Linked DNA regions of Homo sapiens. The protein of the gene in region 3 interacts with the protein of the main gene of each other region in a pairwise test. Each region holds a gene or a part of one and is shown on either strand. Other genes may lie near its edges.

Region 1 (7,943 bases), on a different chromosome or scaffold from region 3:
AGTTGTTTCTGATAGGTGAGAACTGCCTGTATTTAACTAGTATATGGTCATTAAAGATCTCCATGTGGTTTCTAAGAATGCAGAGTCATCATAAGAGAGTCAATAGCTTTAAAAAACAGCTAGATTTAAATAGGGAAGGAAATGTAGGCAATAATAATGTGAACTGTATTGTTTTTTGCTCTAATTTTCATAGAAGAAAATGGAAATATTTTTTGGTCTCCTAGACATTTTAAACAATTGCTAAAAAGTTGTCTTCCAGGTTTTTATTTTAACAAAAGTGTACATTATGGATTCTACAAGTAACTCATTTAAGAAAGCCAAATGTCATTAACTGTTACAATCTATTCAGAATGGGAGACCGAGAGTGGAAAATAGCCACTGAAATTTTTCTTCTATAGTACTCCAAAATAAACCCTGCAATTGTTTTGTCCAATCCAAAAAGGGCTATCTCATGTTTTTCATAAACCAGTTATTACAAGCATGTTCATGTTTCCTAAATAAACCAGCAATAAAATGAGAACTATTAACTATAGCCACACTGTAATGGGACTTAAGTTAAATGTATGTTATTAAAATACTTCTCAGAATGGTCATTATTTCTGAGAATCAGTCTTCATATTAAATATTTAACAACTTTTAAGAGGAAGTTACTATATATTCTTAAGAGAGAAAAGGTTTTGGTTGAGTTTTCTTAATGTCTTTAATAGGAATTAAATATTTGTTGACACTAGGGATCCTCAAGAAAAGAAAGCATACTTCTAAAATCTAGCCATTAAATCTAGTTTCATACTTTCTAATTTTCTTCAATTATACTTGATTTACAGAGAATCGAAACTAATACAAATGCAGCCACCATCTGGAAAAAACATAGGTAATTCATTGGACATTTTCCTTTCTTGACTGTTAAAAATTCCTCAACAGTTAACTTATGCAAATTAGTAAGAAGGTACAAATGTCAAAATGACAAAAGGGTACAAAAGTCACAATATGATCATACCGTTTTGGCCTGGTATTGCTATTTAAGTGAAGACATCCAAAAGGGAGAAATATGACAACTGGTATTTGCTTACTTGCCAATGAACTATTACATAATGAATTTTAAAAAATAGAAACATTTCTAATTTCCAGTTGTAAGGGAATGAATGGTTAGGCCCATTGTGATGTTAAAACTAAAATAAGTATTTAGTTGTTAGGGAAAAAATGAGGATTATATTAAAATATGTAAAGTACTTAAGTAAAAGAAGTGGGGAAAGCCAAAATTTTATGGAATTGCTGCAATTCTGTCAGAGTAAACTGGTAGGATCAAAAGATCTGATGTTTATAAACACTTGATGTGAAACGTTTTTCATTTTATTTTACTTTTGCATTGCTTCTGATGTTTAATGTTCCTTTTTAATGTTTATTATTGTTACCATGCTTTCTATTCAATTGCATGTTTTCTACTAAAACTCTTAATATTTAAAAAATATTAAAATCTCACAATCCACTCAACAGAGCGTCTGTCTGACCATAATTCAATGAATCTCTAGATTTGGAAGAGAATTTGTCATCTAGTTTATCCCTTCTAAATCTATCGACCACCCACCACCAGAGTCTTTTTGTTTGTTTTTTTCATCTTTGAGAGGGGCTATCACTGAAGCACCACATTTGTTTGGGGAAAGCATTCTTTAATTTAAAAAAAAATCTTCCTTAGACTGAAATTCACCTCCCAATAACCTTCACTAATTTGGTTAATTTGTTATCAGTTCTATATTTTAGTCTACACAAATCTTATTTTTCTTCTACCAGACAGCTGTGCGATTGCTGTATTTTAGGTCAGGTACTACAGATCTTTAGAACGTTCCCGGCGAAGCAACCCTATTTACCTCAGAATTATCTTAATTCATGTTTGCACTCCCTGATAACCTAGGACATAGGAGTTCAATACTTGCTGATTCCTTCACCATCCTACTCGGTCTGAGTTCCGTTTAGAAATATCCCCCTTACAATGAAATGCTCATAACTCAACACAATCTCCCAAGTGTTGACTGCATTCTGGAGATTTTCATCCTTTAGATGTGAAATCCTCATGAGTTGTGTGGGTTAAGTGAGGGTCCTTAAGTATAGAACGTTACATATATTCACTAAATTTCATTTTCTAAGATTTCACTCCTCATACCGGCCTTCGAATACTTTCTTGGGTAAGGTATCTTTCTTCCAACTTAAGTTACCGCAGCGGGCCCCGGGACCGTAGAAACGGAGATGACCTCAAATGCCACCTATGATAGGTCAATTCTAACCTGAGGGAATGGAGGTTATCTCCTAATTTCGTTACTAAATAAAACGGTCATATACGTGTTACGTGTAAGTCTATATTTCTCTCCCACACACTCCCACCCACATGCTGAGGGTACAACCCAGCCGGTAGCTGGGGCTGCCTGTTACATGAGGCCTTAGATAACGACGACTTAGCCCGCTTTAAAATAAACAAGTACGCTACAGAGAGCGATGAGCAGGACAGGAGATGAAAGAGACTGGCCTGTTCCCAACTCAGCACCTTCTCTGCAAAAACCTGGTATCTTGCCACGGAATGACACCGGAGACAACTCCGAGGACAAAAGACCCTGGGGCATCAAGCACCCGGAGACTGCCTCACAGGCGTTCCCCAGGCAGCTGCGTCGGCGCGCGCCCACCTTCCTCTGCGCGCGGGGATCACGTGCCAGGCGCCGAGCTCCGTCCCGCCCCTTGGCCCTAGGATTTTTACGCCTCCTTCCCCCGCTTGGCGAACGTGCAAGGATGGGGACTGGCTGATGGGGGAGGATTACCTGTGAGCCTAGCGAACCCGGTAATGCTTTCAGGGACTGGGAGCCGCTTCAGATATGCAGGGAGCTGCACCTTCACGATACGGGCCACGCTCTCCAGCACCATCCTGGCCAGCGGCGTCCACTCCTCTCCCGAGCCCCCTCCGCTCTGGCCAAGCTGCCGCGCCTGCGCCGGGAGCGGAAGCGGCCGGCGGGCACTGGCGGCCTCGGCCTGGGCGGCGGGCGGGGCGGCGGGCCCTGGGAGGAGAGGTGACCTGCCGGGCGCCGATTGGCGGCGGGCGAGTGACGTACGCTCGCGGCGGACTGCCGAGGCGCGGGAACTGGCGGGTAGCGAGGCCCTCCTCGGAATCTCGTGTGAAGGTGGCCCTCCTCTTGGGCCTTTAACGTCTGTAGATGCTGGAGACCAGCAGAAAGGATACTGTGTGCGATGAGATAAGCATGTGAGAATGCTTTCTAACCGAAAGTGCCTTTCAAAAGTGAGTCTCTTGCTGTCTCTACTTCGTCCCCTCTCGCCCCGCCTCTTCCCCTACAGTTTGGGTGCTGTGGCCCTAGGGTTGCATACTCGCCCATGAGTATCCTCCCCCTACCCAGACCCCAGTGCCTAATTTTACTCCTTCACCCAAAGGCCAGGCTTAAAAAAATAAAAATTAAAATATTTTAACTAAACCAGGAACTGTTTACATCTCTGCCCCTTGGCAACTTAACTGCAGCCCTAGCTCCAAAAACCTCTGGTTTTTGCCACTCAGAGAAGATTCGTAGTAGTCCTTCCTTAGATATTTTCAGTTCCTTTTCCTTCGGGAAAGTGGTAAAAGAATCCAAAGCTGGCCGGGCGCGGTGGCTCACGTCTGTAATCCCAGCACTTAGGGAGGCCGAGGCGGGTGGATCACGAGGTCAGGAGTTCGAGGCCAGCCAGGTCAAGATGGTGAAACCCCGTCTCTACTAAAAATAGAAAAATTAGCCGGGCGCGGTGGCAGGTGCCTGTCCCAGCTACTCGGGAGACTGAGGCAGGAGAATCGCTTGAACCAGGGAGGCGGAGGTTGCAGTGAGCCGAGAATGTGCCACTGCACTCTAGCCTGGGAGACAGAGCAAGACTCCGTCACAAAAAAAAAAAAAAAAAAGAATCTAAAGCCTTATGTATGGTTTTCTTTATGTTACAAGGCTTCTGCTGAAGTCTAGCGCAGGGGGTCCTTATGGCTTCCCTAGGCCACACTGGAAGAAGAATTGTCTTGGGCCACACATAAATACACTAACACTAATGGTAGCTAATGAGCTAAAAAAAAATTTTTTTTCATAAAGTTTTAAGAAAGTTTACAGATTTGCATTGAGTGGCATTCAAAGCCATCCTGTTGGGCAAGCTTGATCTTGAAGGTTTTAATTTTGTTGTTGTTGTTGTTGTTACAAGGTTTCGCTCTATCGCCCAGGCTGTAGTGCAGTGGTCAGATCATAGCTCACCGCAGACTCTAACTCCGGCTTAAGGGATCCTTCTGCCTCAGCCTTCCAAGTAGCTGGGTTTACAGGCGTGTGCTGCCACACCCAACGAATTTTAAAAATTTTTGTGTGTATGTAGATGGAGTCCCATTATATCGCCCAGGCTGGATAGTTGTTTTTATTAATATCTCTAAAAGATTTGAAGGGTAAGAGGAGAAAATTTCACTCCCTTGAAATAACTTTCTTGCTATGACTTTGTTTCATATTTTGGCTGAAGTCAAAATGTCCGAAGTTGTGCACTTGCTGATTGGATAATGTGTGTGATATCTTAATAATATGCCTCATTATTTACAGTTCTACACTTAACAACATATAATAACGAACTGCTAATGGTCCAGTATTTCATTGTGTATGACAGTGTAACAGCCAGTTATAATAAATACTTTCCATTTTTCCCCTTGGTATTTTTATTTTACAGTGAGAAAAGGAAGGAATTTTTTAAAGCAATCTTTCATTCTCTGGACTGTATAAATTTAGTGTTTGTGATTGTCCTTCACTAAAAAAGAATATCAGTAATAGAGTTGACCAAAATCTAGATTAAATAATTTTCTATCATTATAATTGTTCAAAATTGTTAAAGTAAAACTTACAATGGAAATTCTACAAACACGTTTAGATACAGGTTCATGTTTTTGAGCTAGGGCAGTATAGAAGATGGTGTATACAAAGTGATGTTTAAAAGGTTGATGGGATTTCCTTTAGAGAGAGTTTGGAGGTAAACCCTGGAGCTTTTTTATCCTGAAGATGATGGAACTTGAATATCCTTGTCCTCTGGACTATTCTGTTAACTGTTATCTTTAATCTCTGTGGATCTAATGTAGAAGCACCCTTGGGTACAACTAGATACCCTAGTTGAGGTAGGGGTAGGTTGGAAGTGGGGTACATTAGGAAAAGAAAATCTGGAAAAGGCCATTACCTATTCGTTTCTTCTCTTAGAGGATCTGTCATCTTGACAAGGGCAAGACGTGCTGTGTTGAGTTTAATTTTTCCCCTTGGTATTTTAAAGTGAGAAAAGGAAAGAATTTTTTTAAAGCAACTTTACATTCTCTGGACTGTATAAATTTAATGTTTGTGATTGTTGTGCATTAAGAATAAGACCTCCAAGCAGTTTTTCTTTAAAGAATTAAAAAATACATACCTCAATTTAAAGATATAGTAAAATGCTCAAATGCCAAATGTACAGTTCCAGGTAACCACCACCCACATCAATATACAGAATGTTCAATAGAGGCGTTTTTAAAAAGCGACCCTTCCAACCACATCCACCACCATTACTACTATTCTGTATTGCTGTGCATGTTTTTGACCCTCACATATAAGTAATTTTACAGTATGTAATTTTTTATGGTTGGCTTACTTCCTCTTAGCAGTTTATGTGAATAGCTGGTTTGCTATTTTCAAGTAGAAAAAATGTAGTGAATGCAAGTCTATATGGATAAAACTTTTTTGGGAGGCCTTGAAATTCAGAGAAAAGGTGTGGATCATATATTAGGTATTCTGATGCATTACATGAGCTATGCGAATGTGTAATAGGAGATAATTCCTAACTCCACCAATTTAAAAATCCTTATTATCCACTTAAAAGGAATATTTTCTTAAATTCCCTTTACTTAAAATTTAAATCCTGTTTTCATTTATATTTGTATTTCATTTCCACAACCCTGCCTTCTTGGCTGCACATGAAACATGGTCTAAAGATAATATTGCTCTAAATAGATGTAATAGGCTTATCTGACCACCTTATGCGATAGTGTTTTTAGACTCCATCTTTAAAAGACATAAAGAAACTGTGGTCAGAAAACTCAAGATAAATATGTAAATACAGTTAAAGGAGTCATTATTTACTTTCAAGCACTTGAGCTTGGATCACTCATCTTCTGCCTGTCCTAGCTAGGCCCAAGACTTTTATTTCTTTCATGTTTTTTTCCCATTAGGTCATCCAGTGCCCCAAATTCAAATATGATCGTTAAGATATAGCCCAAATCTCTATTTCCAGCCCAGATTTCTTTAGGCTAATCTTAATTCTAGGAGTCTAATTCCAAATGCCTACTAGTCTGCTCTTGACATCTTTGCCCACTGTGCTATTGGTTTGTTCATCAGTTTCACTGGTACATGTTTTCTGGAAAATATTACCTTGTTGGTTACATTGGTTGCTTATCTTTTCCTGTTGCTTATCTTCTCCTAGTGTATGTCTTTTTTTTTTTTTTTTTTGGTTGAGACAGAGTCTCTGTTGCCCAGGCTGGAGTGCAATGGCGCGATCTCAGCTCACTACAACCTCTGCCTCCCAGGTTCAAGTGATCCTCCTGCCTCAGCCTTCCATGTAGCTGGGACTACAGGCGCCCGCCACCACTCCCGGCTAATTTTTGTATTTTTAGTAGAGACGAGGTTTCACCATATTTGCCAGGCTGGTCTTGAACTCCTGACCTCATGATCCACCTGCCTCTGCCTCCCAAAGTGCTGGGATTACAGGCGTGAGCCACCGTGCCTGGCCGTGTATGTCTGTTTTTATACTGAAATTTGGTTTGGGTGTAGTCAAATTTATTCATCTTTTTCTTTACAATTTGTGTTCTGGGAGTCTTGTTTAAGAAATCTTTTTCTACCCCTAAATCACAAAGGTATTCACCTGTGTTTTTGCTAAAAGTTTTAAACTTATATTCTTCATATTAGGGCTTTACTCAACCCAGTACTTACTTTTTGTGCATGAGAAAGGGATCTACTCTCATTTGTTATTATTTTACATACAGACAACTATGTTCTAGCACCATTTATTGAAGAGTTAAACTTGTTTTTGTGGTTTGTAATGTCACTTATCTCAAATCAGGTTTCCACACATCCTGGGTTGCTTATTCTCTTCCATTGCTGTATTTGTATAACCTCTATAACAATACCATACTGTCATAATTGCTACAACTATATAAGTAAGTGTTAATATCTAGCAAGATAAGCTTCCCCACCTGTTTTCTTCAAATTGCATTGTGAATGCCTGGCCTTGTTACTACTCTATGAATTTCAGAGTCCTCTTGTCAAGTTGTATGAAAAACTTAACTTTTTACTGAAAATTAATTAGGGCCTCAGTTTTCTTCTCTTTGATATGGTGATACCAGTGGTTATGACTAGATACAATTAATTTTGTAATATACTCAATGAATGGTTATTATCATTATCGTCTTTACCATCAATGAATGACCCTTTACTCTGGCTTTCAGACCTTAAATTCAGCAATTTTACTGGTGACCACAATCTCACATTCTGGTACATTTTTACTGCCACTAAACATCCTTTGATTTAGTTTTGAAACCCTGTCTTTTTCTGCTCTGTCAGCCCATTCCTGGATAAATTGGGAAGTCAAGATAGGTTTGCCAATTTTTTATTTGGTCAAGAAAGGGCATTTAATAACAATATAACAAAACACTACTACTGTCTACTTACTGCAAGGAATTACATACAGCATTATAGTTAAGACTGTAGACTCTTGGAGCCACACTGTTTAGACTACAATTCTGATTCTACTAGGATAAATTATATAACCTGTAAAAATGTAGGTAATACCTACATCTTAAGGTTGTGTTGTGTATATTCACTGAATTAAGACATAGATAGCAATTAAAACAGTACCTGGCACATATACATGCATAGTTAGTATGATATTTCATC
Region 2 (7,985 bases), about 120 Mb from region 3:
CTATAAGTCCTAGGCTCAAGCAGTCCTCCTGCCTCAACCTCCCAAAATGCTGGGACAACAGGCGTGCACCACTGTGTCTGGCCTGTTATTGCTTATTGAGGACTTACCATGTGCCGAGCCTTATTCTAAGCACTATGGAGATAGCAGTGATAGGGGACGTCCCTGCTCTTGTAGAACTGTACTTTAATTCTCCTTTAATTCTCCCCTGCTTACAAAATAATAAAAGAAGGCTTTACTGAGGACCTCCTGGGTGCCCTGCTGTGCAGCTTGCCCTGGTCCTTGCCCTCTGCAGCTTGTTATTGCACTTAGAAGGCAAGGCATGGACATGCCTGAAGGGGTGTGGGAGCTACTGACGTGCCCAGGCCACAGGTACCTCAGAGAAAGGGGCAGGAGCAGGTGTGATTCATCCCTGTGACCCCAGGGCCCAGCCCAGAGCCAGGCACGTGGTGGGGGCTTTTGTTTTTTTTGTTTTTTTTGTTTTTTTTTTGAGGCGGAGTCTTGCTCTATTGCCCAGGCTGAAGTGCAGTTGCATGATCTCAACTCACTGCAACCTCTGCCTTCTGGGTTCAAGCGATTCTCCTGCCTCAGCCTCCCGAGTAGCTGGGATGACAGGCGCCCGCCACCATGCCTGGCTAATTTTTGTATTTTTAGTAGAGACGGGTTTCACCATGTTGGCCAGGCTGGTCTTGAACTCCTGACCTCAGGTGATCCGCCCACCTTGGCCTCCCGAAGTGCTGGGATTACAGGTGTGAGCCACCACACCGGCCTGGGGCTTTGTGAACACTCTGTGAATATGCCGACCTGGGGGTCCAGGAGGCAAGAGAAGGCCCCCAGTATGGGTCAGTCCAGGTTATTTCCAATCCATTCACATTTCTGATGCAGTGTCCTCAGAAGCAGAATGGGATTTCCACAGGCAGGTAAGGGGAGGGTGCAAAGAGAGGGCATTCCAGGCAGAGGGCGTGGCAGGAGTAAAGGCCCAGTGGTTGCAGGTGGGGGAGCACAAATGGCCTGGGGTGGTGGGACTCCAAGATGGATGTGTATTGGGAGGGGAGACAATAGCAGGAGAGGCAGCATAAATCTAAAACCTGTCATCCCTACAGCCCTAGTTGGTGGCTCCTTGGCCATCAGCAAACAGGGTAAACTCAGGTAACCAGGGAGGCAGCGTGACTCTGGGCAGGGAGAGGTGTCCTGATCAGCCAAGCAGCTCCTCAAATATTTGTGCAGCACAGACCATGCACAAGGTGGGGCCATGGGAGAACCCGCAGAACCAAGGCTCCTGCCCAGGTGAAGCTGTTGCACTTCAAAGCCAGAAAGCCCTTAGGTGCCAGTCCTCTCCCTGTACCGATGAGGAAAAGGAGGTGATTCTTTCCACAACCCCGCCCATCATGAGTCAGGACTTAGAAATAAACAAACACCAGCTCGGAGCAACAAAAGCCCTGGGGCTTTGTAACCAGAGAGACCTCAGTTCACATTTGAACCCTGGCCCTCCAACCTCCCTGCTGTGTGACCTTGGCCTGGTTACTCAACCTCTCTTAGTTTCAGCTGTCTCATCTGTTATTGCCCCATAACAGGGCCCCTGTCTCAGAGCTGTCCTGAGGATTAAAGAGATCATGCAGTGCCAGGCACCTAACTGGGGATGGATTCTTTATAGCTGGTATTTTAATCTACCTCTCTGAGTGTGTTTCGTCATTGATCAAATGTGGGCCAAGCCAGGGCATATGCAAAGCTCAGTACATGTGTGTTTCTTCCTTCTTCTATTTTCAGAAGGGTAAAGAGGACTGTCCTGGTCACACCATGGGCCAGTGGCACATAGTAGGGCTAAATAAATGTGTCACTTTATCCATCAGAGTTAAAGAGAATTGCCCAGGTCACCCACTGAGTCAAGAATTTGACGCTGGTGCTCTTTTCTCTGTGTTACAGGTGGGCACTGTATGCAGTTTGGTGCCTGTGAGGTAGGCAGCACACAGTAGGTGCTTAATGAATGCATGTGCATGGAGAGAATGAATAACCCTATTAAGCAAGTGACTGTCAGCATGGCTGGCCAGGAAGCTGGGAGCAGACAACGTTAACATGGAGGCAGAGGTCTGAGGGACAGTGGGAGCCTTGAACCCTCCTCATGTCTCTATCGCCAACTGCCAGCTTCAAGGGAGCCCCACAGGGCACTGGCCCCAGGCCCTCCAGTTCTTTACCTTCCCCTCCAGGGTGGGCTTTGGATTCAGCAGCAGTGTAGCCATTCTCTCCCTGCCCAAGAGAACAGAGTGAGGGGTGGGCTTAGGTGAGGTGAGCTCCAGCCTCAGGGAGGCAGACAACAGGGTTTTCAGAGGGGTCACTGAGAGAGTCTTAGGTAGAACCACGGGTCCGTCACACCCCAGCATCTCACGCCCCAGATGCATCATGCCCGCTTCATATGTCCACACCTTTGCCTGCACTGTGCCCTCTGCCTGGAAAGCCTTTTTCTCTGCTGTCCACCTGATAAATATTCATCCTTCAAACCGGCTTGGGCAGCGACTCCTGGGTGAGGCTTTCCCTGATACCCTCCTCCCCAGTAAAACTGGCCGCTCTTCCCTCCTGTCCACCTGGCTCCTCTGTTTCCATACCAGCACTTGCCACCTGGACTGTATTGCTGGGTCATTGGTAGGGTCCCCTACACCCTGGGAGTGAGCCCCGGGGCAGGACGGGGGCTGATTTTCCTCCGTGTCTCCCATGTATGCCCACTCTCTACTGCCCACTCCTCATCCCAAGGTTTGCTCTCCCAAGATCAGGAGCCTGGTCAGGGCGGCTCTTACCTGGGGACAGCTCTTACTTGGAGACAACTCTTACCTGGGGACAGCTCTCACCTGGGGACAGCTCTCACTTGGGGACAGCTCTTACTTGGAGACAACTCTCACCTGGGGACAGCTCTCACCTGGGGGAAGACCTTGTTCATGTCTTCGGTTTCCTGCTGCCCGACTGGGGCTGTGTGCAGAGAGCTCAGCACGGGTTCCCTGCATTGTCACCAAGGCCAACCTGGAGGAGGGACAAGCAGGAGGCCTTGCCCGGGCCACACCCTCCCTGTGGGCAGGCCCCTGTCAGCTGCCTTCCAAGCAGAGGCAAAGGCAGGAGGGCCCCTCTCCGGCCAGGCTATTCCCTCATCTGCCATCTGACAGCAACATTGCGAGGCTGGAATCCTCATCCCTATTCCACAGATGAAGAGCCAGAGGTTCAGAGAGGGAGAAACTGCCCCAAGTCTCACAGTGCATGGGAGGAGTGAAACCCAGAAACTTTTCAGAAAGTGCATTTTCCTCCACATCAGAGATGGAACCGGAGGAGCTCAGGTTCCAGGGGTATGAAGATGCAGGCAGAAACTCCCAGAATTGACGTTTCGGTGGCTAGAAAGTAGGGGTCATTTTCTCATTGATGTTCTTCTGTTCAACTACATAGGTGACCTAGATTGAAAGAATATGCATTTTCCACTAAAATTATAAAGCAAATATAATTTTAAATTGTTTCATTTAGAAACGTGGCAATGTGAATTTTTACTGCCCCTGAGGTGGTGCTGAGGTAGGGAAGAGGCGGGGGGCTGGTTGCTTGCGTGAACAACCCCTTCTATGTCCCCAGTGAGTGGGTTTCCCTAGCAGCCTGTCCCACTGCTGAGTAAACCAAGGCCCTGGAATCTTGAGGGACAGGTCCAAGGACCCGGACCAAGGGAGGAGAGGTGTCTACCTCCAGAAATGAGCTCAGGAGTTCTTGCACCTGCCTCTGATGCCCATAGATTTTCCAACCTGCAATCAGCCTTTTCTTTTGCATTGGGAAATAAAATGATGAATCCACGTGGGTGCAAGTAGGAGGCACAGACACAGGGGCAGCCCTTGGGAGGCAGCAAGTAACATTGTGAAGAGCTGAGCCCTAGGCCGGGAGAACAGGACTCTCATTAGGGCCCTACCACTGGCTCTGACGGGTGACTCACTCCCCTTCCCTGCGCCTCAGTTCCTTCATCCAGAAAATAAAGATATAAGCTAGATGAAGGGGGTGTTTTAGTTTAAGGTTCCCCAGAATCAGACTCTAAGACAAGATTTGAGGGCAAGTAGAGTTAATTGGGAGTGATCCCAGGAAATGCTGGTCGGGGGGTGAGGGAAATGAGACATGGAAGAGAAGGATCCGATAACAGTCGTGTTATGAAGCAGGTTTCCGCTGTGGGCAAGTGGAATTTAGCCCTGCTGGGGCACTCGGGGAAGCTAGGGGAGAAGATGCCCCTCAGAGTTATCCCACTCAAGGTGAGGGGAACTGGGGTAATAATCTGCCAGCTCCTGCCAGTCTTGGTTGAGAATGGCCAGAGGAGGCCAGGCATGGTGGCTCATGCCTGTAATCCCAGCACTTTGGGAGGCCGAGGCAGGTGGATCACCTGAGATCAGGAGTTCAAGACCAGCCTGGCCAACATAGTGAAACCCCGTCTTTACTAAAAATACAAAAAATTAGCCGGGCATGGTGGCAGGCGCCTGTCATCCCAGCTACTCAGGAGGCTGAGGCAGGAGAATTGCTTGAACCTGGGAGGCAGAAGTTGCAGTGAGCCAAGATTGCGCCATTGCACTCCAGCCTGGGCAATAAGAGCGAAACTTCGTCTCAAAAAAAAAGAGACTAGCCAGAGGGTGTTAATTCCTTGTACCACTGGGCTGCCTTAGGCAAGGAGATGTCAGTGATGGCAACTTAGCAGCTGCACGCTAAGCTAATATGTCCTGAAATGGAAAGCGCTGATAGCATGGGCAGGGCACCCATGGTCCCTACTAAAGACACTAACTAGATTTTATCTGGCATGTCAGCTGCAATTGATTGCAAAAGGCTCTCTGGAACATGGGCCTCAGAAGGATTCTGAGGTCAGAACTGTGATTGACTAGTGATGCCTGCCATGGGTGTAAGAGTGGAGAGGGGTATCAGACATGATGGCTTTCACTCGCATCCGTGTGAAGAGACCACCAAACAGGATTTATGTGAGCAATAAAGCTGTTTATTTCACCTGGGTGCAGGTGGGCTGAGTCCGAAAAGAGTCAGCGAAGGGAGATAAGGGTGGGGCCGTTTTATAGGATTTGGGTAGATAAAGGAAAATTACAGTCAAAGGGGGGTTGTTCTCTGGCGGGCAGAGTGGGGGTCACAAGGTGCTCAGTAGGGGAGCTTTTGAGCCAGGATGAGCCAGGAGAAGGAATTTCACAAGACAGTGTCATCAGTTAAGGCAGGAACCGGTCATCTGGATGTATACGTGCAGGTCACAGGGGATATGATGGCTTAGCTTGGGCTCAGAGGCCTGACAATGACCATTTGCCATTCCTGGACATATTAATGCCCTTCAGCCTCTGGCCTTCCTTGACTCCGTGATTCTTAAGTGTTCCTTTATAAAAAGACTCCCCGGGGCTTTGAAATGCCCTTTCATCTGCTGAGTCCAGGTACAGCCACATACAACTATGCTGAAAGCACTGCGTCTCTCCAGGGCTCAGGCTGTCACCAAGAACCCTTGAGGGAAGGGCAGCAGGGGGCCTGGTGACATGAAGGACAGGCCCTGGTGCCTCAATCCTTGAACTTCCTGGAATCATATCCCCTGCAATTCACAGTCTCACTCTCAAGGGGAGGGCATGGATGGAAGGGAGGCAGATATTATTTATTGAGCAGCTACTATGCTCCAGGCACTACACCAGCCACCTTACACACGCCCTCTCCCTTGATCCTCACAACAACTCTGAAAGATAGGTAATATTATTACACCCACTAGACAGATGCAGAAACTGGGTTCAGAGAGGTTAAGTAACTTGCCAAAGCCACACAGTGGGTAAACAGCAGAGCAGAGATTTTAACCCAGGTCAGTTTTGCCTCCAAGCAGAGTTGATTCACACTCCCTCCCTTGTGGATGAGAATTTCTGTTGATCACATCTCTGTCAACACTTAGTACCATCAGACTTTTTGATTTCCTCCAGCCTGACAACTGTGAAATACCATCAGTGGCTCGCCGCCTTTAGGATTTGCAGTCCTCTTTTGCTTAACCTCAGATGTGTCTCATTCTAAAGCAGGGAGATGCTGGGCACTGTGGCTTGCACCTGTAATCCCAGGACTTTGGGAGGCCAAAGTGGGTGGATCGGTTGATATCAGGAGTTCGAGACCAGCCTGGCCAACATGGTGAAACCCTGTCTCTACTAAAAATATAAAAATTAGCCAGGCACGGTGGCCCACGCCTGTAATCCCAGCTACTTGGGAGGCTGAAATGGGAGAATCGCTTGAACGAACGGAAGGCAGAGGTTGCAGTAAGCCGAGATCGTGCCACTGCGCTCCAGCCTGGGTGACAGAGTGAGACTCTGTCTCAAAATAAATAAATAAATAAATAAAGCAGGGAGAATGGTGAGTGGTGGATGGAGAGTTCTAGCAGCAGCTTAAGGCGGTGCCCATATTATGAGGGTTAGAGGAGGAAATTGGAAAGAGTGGAAAACAGGGCTGCCAGAGTCCCTCAGGGAAACTCAGAACTTTGATCAGCAGAGTCAAAGGGACCTCAGGCTCAGAGAGAACAACGGCCTCACTTTACAGAAGGGGGATCTAAAGTCCGGAAAGAAGAGGGGACTTGTGCAAGGCCATACCGTGGTCAGTGTCCCAGTACAGCGAGCACTCCTTCCACAGCAGCAGATGGCCTCAGGGACATTGGCACGTGCAGCCTCAATTTTTTTTTTTTTTGAGACAGAGTCTTACTCTGTTGCCCAGGCTGGAGTGCAGTGGCGCGATCTCCGCTCACTGCCATCTCTGCCTCCTGGGTTCACGCCATTCTCCTGCCTCAGCTTCCCAAGTAGCTGGGACTACAGGTGCCTGCCACCACGCCCGGCTAATTTTTTGTATTTTTAGTAGAGACAGGGTTTCACTGTGTTAGCCAGGATGGTCTCGATCTCCTGACCTCGTGATTTGCCCACCTCGGCCTCCCAAAGTGCTGGGATTACAGGTGTGAGCCACCGTGCCCAGCCCAGCCTCAATTATTTTCAGCCTCACTGTCTCTCTTGCCTAGGGTACAGGCCCCAGGCTGCCAACCTCACGTGTCCCAGCAGTTGCTCCTGAAGGGCACTGTTCAGATGCTTGGCCCACGTTGTCCCCTCCTTCTCTACTGTCTGCTCTCTTTCTGGTTAGTTAGAACTGATGGCAGGGGCTTTCACTGCCTGTTCTTGTCCTAGCGGAAGGCAGTTGTTGGGATAGTTATATCATGAACACTAATGGCTTGGGCTGTAGTAAACAACCTCCACCTCCACCCTGCTGGGCCCTTGGCCTTGACTAGGACTCCTGGGCCAGGGCTGGGTAAACTTCTAGCAAGAGCACAAGTTTTGGAGCTGATAGTCCAAATGGTCTCACCACTAGCTGAGTGATCTTGGCTGGGTCACTTAACCTCTCTGAGCTGAGCTCAGATTGAGGCTGGGCTGGGCACGGTGGCTCACGCCTGTAATCCCAGCACTTTGGAAGGCCGAGGTGGGCGGATCACAAGGTCAGGAGATCGAGACCATCCTGGCTAACACATTGAAACCCCGTCTGGACTAAAAAAATACAAAAAATTAGCCAGGCATGGTGGCGGGCACCTGTAGTCCCAGCTACTCGAGAGGCTGTGGCAGGAGAATGGCATGAACTCGGGAACTGAAATCGCGCCACTGCACTCCAGCCTGGGCGACAGAGCAAGACTCCGTCTCAAAAAAAAAAAAAAAAGAAATACGGAAAGGTAGGAAGAATAATGTAACAAATAATCACGAATCCGAGTTAACAAGTGTTAACATGTAATCAGTTTTGCTTCACATTTTTTTCTGTTAAGTACAGCACAATTGAGGGCCTCTGTTTTTTTCCCCAGTTGTATTTCTTCTCCTCCCTTTCCAGAGTTGATCAGTTTCCTGAGTATGGCATGTATTCTTTGGTAACTGGTTTGTATATTTTTAACATATGGGTATATATGCATGAAAAATACGTAGTGCTGCCTTTATGGCTTTTTAAAAACATTGATAAAATTT
Region 3 (5,406 bases):
AAACATAGCATATATATCTGATGTTGATATATTGCTTTTTTCATGTTTTCTCTTACAGTTCTTATAGTCATGAAATACCGTACTTGATTTGATGACAGAGATCTTCATTAAACAAGATCTGGGACAGTAATAAAAGATTGCTGCATAATTTAAATGAAACCTATGTGTATATAACTTTCAAAACTTCTTTTTCAAGAAACTAAGAGGCAAGTATCACTTCAAATTGGAACGTTGAGAATGTCCAATTATCTTCTCCCTTTCTAACAAAATGTTCTTTTAATAATTATGTTTAAGGCAAAGAGAACTAGCCTCTATTTTTCCATATTTCAAGGATCTAATTTGAAACTAGATACTTGCCAGTTCATTATTTGTGTATATAAACACTGATTATAATATTTCATATTAATATTTTAATGGCATAAGGACTTGCATTATTGCATTAGGGAGCGGGTCATGCTGGGGGTCAGGAAGCCTGTGTAGAGTACCAAATTATATGCTGAAAGAGATGCATAACCATTCTGTCAATATTTGCAGAAATATAGTTCCTTTCATATTACAGTTGTTTTGCAAGCAATTTCCACATTTATAGGTGTAACAAAAGCTAAATGTTGTAAATGTTGTTGCCCTCAGGTATAACTAAAAACATTCCAGTAAATATATTTTTGACTGTGTAAGAGAATGTGTAGTAATTTTTTTGGCATTGGATTATGGAAATGGAAATTTTTAAACAGTGTGAAAAAACATGGTATGGCATCATAAAACTGGAGATAATAAAGTTATTGAAGAGTGTCATTGGAGTATTTGAAAATGACCAATATATAGCTGCCAGTCATGGTCCAGTCTGTTTTCTGTTAAACTCCAATAAAGAGAGACCAGTCAGTCCTAATGTGAGTAAATGAAATTTACAGGTAACTTACTTACTCCTTAATTTTATTTTAGTTAATAGCCTCTAACTTCCAACTATCTCATTTACCAAAAGTACAAAAAGTAGCAAAACCATCTATTAATACTTTGAATTTTATATCTTTGCATTTCCTGTTCATCCTTGAGGAGATGTATGTTGCACAATCAAATTTTGCATCAGCCAACAGTAATGAGTAGTAGAAAGTCAGGAACCTATGTGTATATATATATATATATATATATATATATATATATATATATATACACACAAACACACACACACACACACACACACACGCACACATATGATAATCAGTCAGTCGGTAACCAAATGCTAGAGAGTGACCATTAACCTAAGCCTGTTTTTATAATGAAAAAATGTGTTAACTTTAAAATATGCCAACCTCCTTGTGTCTTTTAAACAAGTCAGAGTGAAAATACATTGTCCCCTAAGGTGTGGGGAGAGGAAGCTTTATAATAAAATTAGTGATTCTGCAGAAACTTGTGCACTGGATATCTTGACAATATGAATATAAAACTCCCTAAATTAAAAATAGGGTTAATAGAAATTATCAGTATTTAAATAGGGAAAAATGATTTTATGTTTATTTTATTTAGGTTTTATTTCTTTGGTCATCTTAATGCAAAATGAATAAAGCATAGAATCTGGGTTTGGTGTTTTTTTGTCTGTTTTTAAAATTCTACAGGATTATTACTAGGAGGCAAAAAATGCTGTTTAGAATGGAAAAAATTTGAAGAGAGAAAGCAGACTGAGACACTCAAGACACCTGCAAGTTATCTAAGAAGATCTAAATAGAATTACTAAATTTTATAGTTTGCTTAGAGCATTTAGAAGGAGATAAAGGTCTTACATACTATAGTGTATATTGTCTTTGGTCTCTATGCTCTTTGTAAATGTCAATTAATATAAACAGCATCTGAACAGCTAATAAATCTTTTAAGTTAAGATACCCAGAAAAATGAGCATTTTTAGAATTTCAGTAGCTAATAATTCAGGAATGGAAATATTTTAACTGAATGGACAGAATCAGTCCTAACATTTGTATGTATGTCCTTTATTTGAATTGGAACTAGGCTCATAAGTGGTTAATTTTCCATTAGTTGATGTAGAAATCTGGTTTCTCCATAATATCTACAAGTGAAGATGAAGATTACTTCTCAAAAAGTATCCATATTTCCAGTGTTCCTTTTAATAAAATATGCCACTTTTAAATAAATAATTACAAAATGTAAAATTATAAAATTTTTAAATTTAAATAATAAGTAACAGTAAAATTTTTTGACAATATATATGTCACTGTCTTTGTAATTTAAACATATTGCTGCCTGGGATATGGGTAACAGAATTATCACTCATGGAACTTTGTAGTAGTGATGGCTTGGTTTGTAATTCATCATTTCATCTTTCTTGGTCTTGATTAATCCTGAAATCCTTAAAATGGCTGGCATGGTTATGACTTTATTGTGGTAACCTTGGAGATATAAGCCCTCTTACGATCAAAAACAGAAGAAAAAAATATATTGTTCAAACTGATGCCAGGCCTACCTTTATTCCCTCCCTTAATTACTTTTTTTCTCATTCAGCTCAGATCATCCTGCACTTGAAAAATGAAGTTTTACCACCATCAAAACTATCATTATTTAACAACAAGTGAAGATCAACAGAAAAATTCAAGTAGCTTTGCAAATACTAGTTGATACTCAGTGAAATCACGTCACTATTTTGATGCCTGAATCCATACCTTTGTGATTTATGTTTAATTACAGAAGCCTATTGCCTTGCAGCAATTTTGTTGTTATAATACTGATTAATTGGTTACTCCTTCTTATTATAACTCAGTAATACCTGTGGTCATTTGGTTCCTCTATCCTGACAAAGTTCACTGGAAATTGCCCTCAGATTTTATAAACTGGGGGATTTCTTAATTAGATAAAAGTTCATTACTGAAGATGGAATATTATATAAGATGGAGGAAGGGTAATTAATAGACATGAGATATAGAAATACTTTGTTAGCCCTGCTATAGATTGCCTATTGTAGTCTTTCTGTGCATTTCAATAGTCTGTATTAGGAAATTATAACTTCAGCACTTTTGATAGCAAAAATTGGCATCTTTCAATTCTGTATAGTATGTGACTATCCTGTAAATGATAATATGTGTACAGACTGAGAAGGCAGGAATATAAAGTAATTGAAATCTCTCATTGCCGGTATACTCTAAAACATGCTTGATGCCTTGTCAGCATCATTGCACACATTGACTCTGTATTTACATCTGTATATACACTATGATTAGAAAATATGCAAGAAATTGTTTTTCCATGTTAAGAACAAATGCCATTAGAAGATGTCCCCTTAATTGTATTGTCAGAGTATTACTATGTCAAGGATGACTGTTCTGTTAACCTAATTTTGTGTTTTCACATGGAAATGTGATTGGACTCCATTTTTCTGTGAGTTGAGAGTAAGAGCATAAGTCAGTTTGAAAGCATTTACAAGTTTGTTTTAGAATGTAGTAAGGGCTGAAAGGTGCTCTACTTCTTAACTTGTTTTTTCCATGTTGTAGACAAATGAAATTTGTCTAAATGCTTTTGTCTAAAAATGCATTTGTCTAAATGCTTTAGATTGATGTAGGGTTTAGATCCTCTTTAATACTTTGAGATAGTCTTATTCTGATTTTTTTTTTCTTCTGGAAACCAAGTAGAATTAGGGATGGGAATACAAATGCATTTATTCTGGCTTCTGTTTTATTCCAAGAAGCTTCTTGGAACAAATCAGTAGGAATTGAAAAGAAAGCATGACCAACCCAATTACAGGGGATAAATGTAAGCTTGTTAAAGTAAGCACCACACCATGTTTCTGTCTCCCCAGCACCCAGCACAGTGCTGTGAACCTTGGCAGATGCTAGATAAATGTGTGTTGAATGAATGTGCCTATGAAGCCACAAAGATGCCACATGTTAGTATATCAGTGAGAGGTGACTCCACAGTGCTCTCTGGAGAAGCAATATGAGTGACTGAAGAGTGGGGCCTTTTGCTTTTGCCTGGATATAGGGGTGCTCTTCTACTGTAATTGGGTGTGGAAAAACTCTGGCTTTATGGTATTCCATTAGGTTCTTTTCATTTAAAGTAGTCTTAAAATCAAAGTATCCAATATTTTAAAGCCACAAAGTAGATTACATAATTAGCAGAGATTTTAGTCAGTAAAATGTTAGAAATCAAACTATAAGAAAATTCAAGTCCTTTATTTTGTGTCTTGGGTATATGTCATTATTTTAAATTCCACACTCCCTTATTTAATCACTTTGGTAAGTGCCTTTGATGTTTTGAAATGTATAGTGGGAGATGAGCAAATGTAAATGTCATGTGCCCTGTTCCCTAGCTTCTCAATTCCTCATAACCATTTTTACCAGTGTTGCAAAGTTTAGACCTTTGTGTTAATATCAGAAGTGTATTTGTAGCCCCTCCATAGTGAACAATGAAATAAACTATTTCATAGAAAACAAAAATTAAGCACTTTGGCTTATTCAATATGTGTTACCTGTTGCCTTAACTTCAAAGCATAGCTTATTTAACAATAACATCTGGATAATCACCCCTGATTTAATCTATCCTATTTTCCCAATAAAGTGCATGGAGGAAAAATAAGAAAAAGAAAAGGCATTCTTTCACCAAAAATTATGCCTGATACTGACAAAATCTAAGAAGAATTTCTTAGTGATTTTTAACTCAGTAAAGCAATGTCTTTACCTCAGTCCACAGTGTCTGTAGGAGAGGAAGGCAGGCAGTTTTCTCTTAAACTTACATGTCCCAATCAGAAAACCTGATCCTGTCCCTCAGCTGCCTGGTGCTTTAGGCAACCAGAGTAATGTTCATTCTCTCTAGCCTCCCTCCACCCACACACTAAACTGTGTCTTTTTGTTTTTGTTTCTGAGACAGGATCTTGTTCTGTCTCCCAGGCTGAAGTGCAGTGGTGCGATCACAACTCACTGCAGTCTCAGACTGCTGGGCTCAAGCAATCCTTCCACCTCAGTTCTCCCAAGTGGCTGGGACTACAGGCATGTACCACCATGCCCAGCTAATTTTTAAATTTTTTTTATAGACGGGGTCTTACTGTGTTACCCAGACTGGTCTCAAATTCCTAGACTCATGCTATCCTGCCTCAGCGTCCCAAAGTGCTACGATTACAGGTGTGAACCACCATACCAGGCCTTTATTGTCTTAATACTACAAAAAGCCATGGGAGGGGAGATGACATTGGAGGCACGTTGTACCCTGAGATAGTCTTCACAAATAAAGTGCTGTTGTTAGAAATGGAGACAGGAAGCAACCTGGTAAGGGCACTCTGAGAATGATGGTGTTTAATACAATCCACCATTCAACAGATGAGAGAACCGGGCAGGAAGATCAGATACTACCTAAATCCAACAGAGTCATACTTAGTGTGTGCCCATCGAACACTAAAAACTGCTGTGGAGCAGT

The links.
Region 1: the proteins of VAMP4 (region 3) and CISD2 interact in binary tests that used the Homo sapiens proteins (3 or more experiments, as listed by UniProt).
Region 2: the proteins of VAMP4 (region 3) and LDLRAD1 interact in binary tests that used the Homo sapiens proteins (3 or more experiments, as listed by UniProt).

Annotation. Positions count from the first base shown.
Region 1 is NC_000004.12:102,864,049-102,871,991, reverse strand, and holds the start of CISD2 (CDGSH iron-sulfur domain-containing protein 2), read right to left. Parts: upstream 3,001-7,943; 5' UTR 2,908-3,000; coding exon 2,805-2,907; intron 1-2,804. Other genes in the region: UBE2D3 (ubiquitin-conjugating enzyme E2 D3), read left to right, coding at 3,248-3,277. UniProt on the Homo sapiens protein: Regulator of autophagy that contributes to antagonize BECN1-mediated cellular autophagy at the endoplasmic reticulum.
Region 2 is NC_000001.11:54,015,187-54,023,171, forward strand, and holds the start of LDLRAD1 (low-density lipoprotein receptor class A domain-containing protein 1), read right to left. Parts: upstream 3,001-7,985; 5' UTR 2,991-3,000; coding exon of another isoform or gene 2,927-2,990; coding exon 2,906-2,926; intron 2,242-2,905; coding exon 2,190-2,241; intron 1-2,189.
Region 3 is NC_000001.11:171,699,187-171,704,592, reverse strand, and holds the end of VAMP4 (vesicle-associated membrane protein 4), read left to right. Parts: intron 1-58; coding exon 59-87; 3' UTR 88-4,433; downstream 4,434-5,406. UniProt on the Homo sapiens protein: Involved in the pathway that functions to remove an inhibitor (probably synaptotagmin-4) of calcium-triggered exocytosis during the maturation of secretory granules.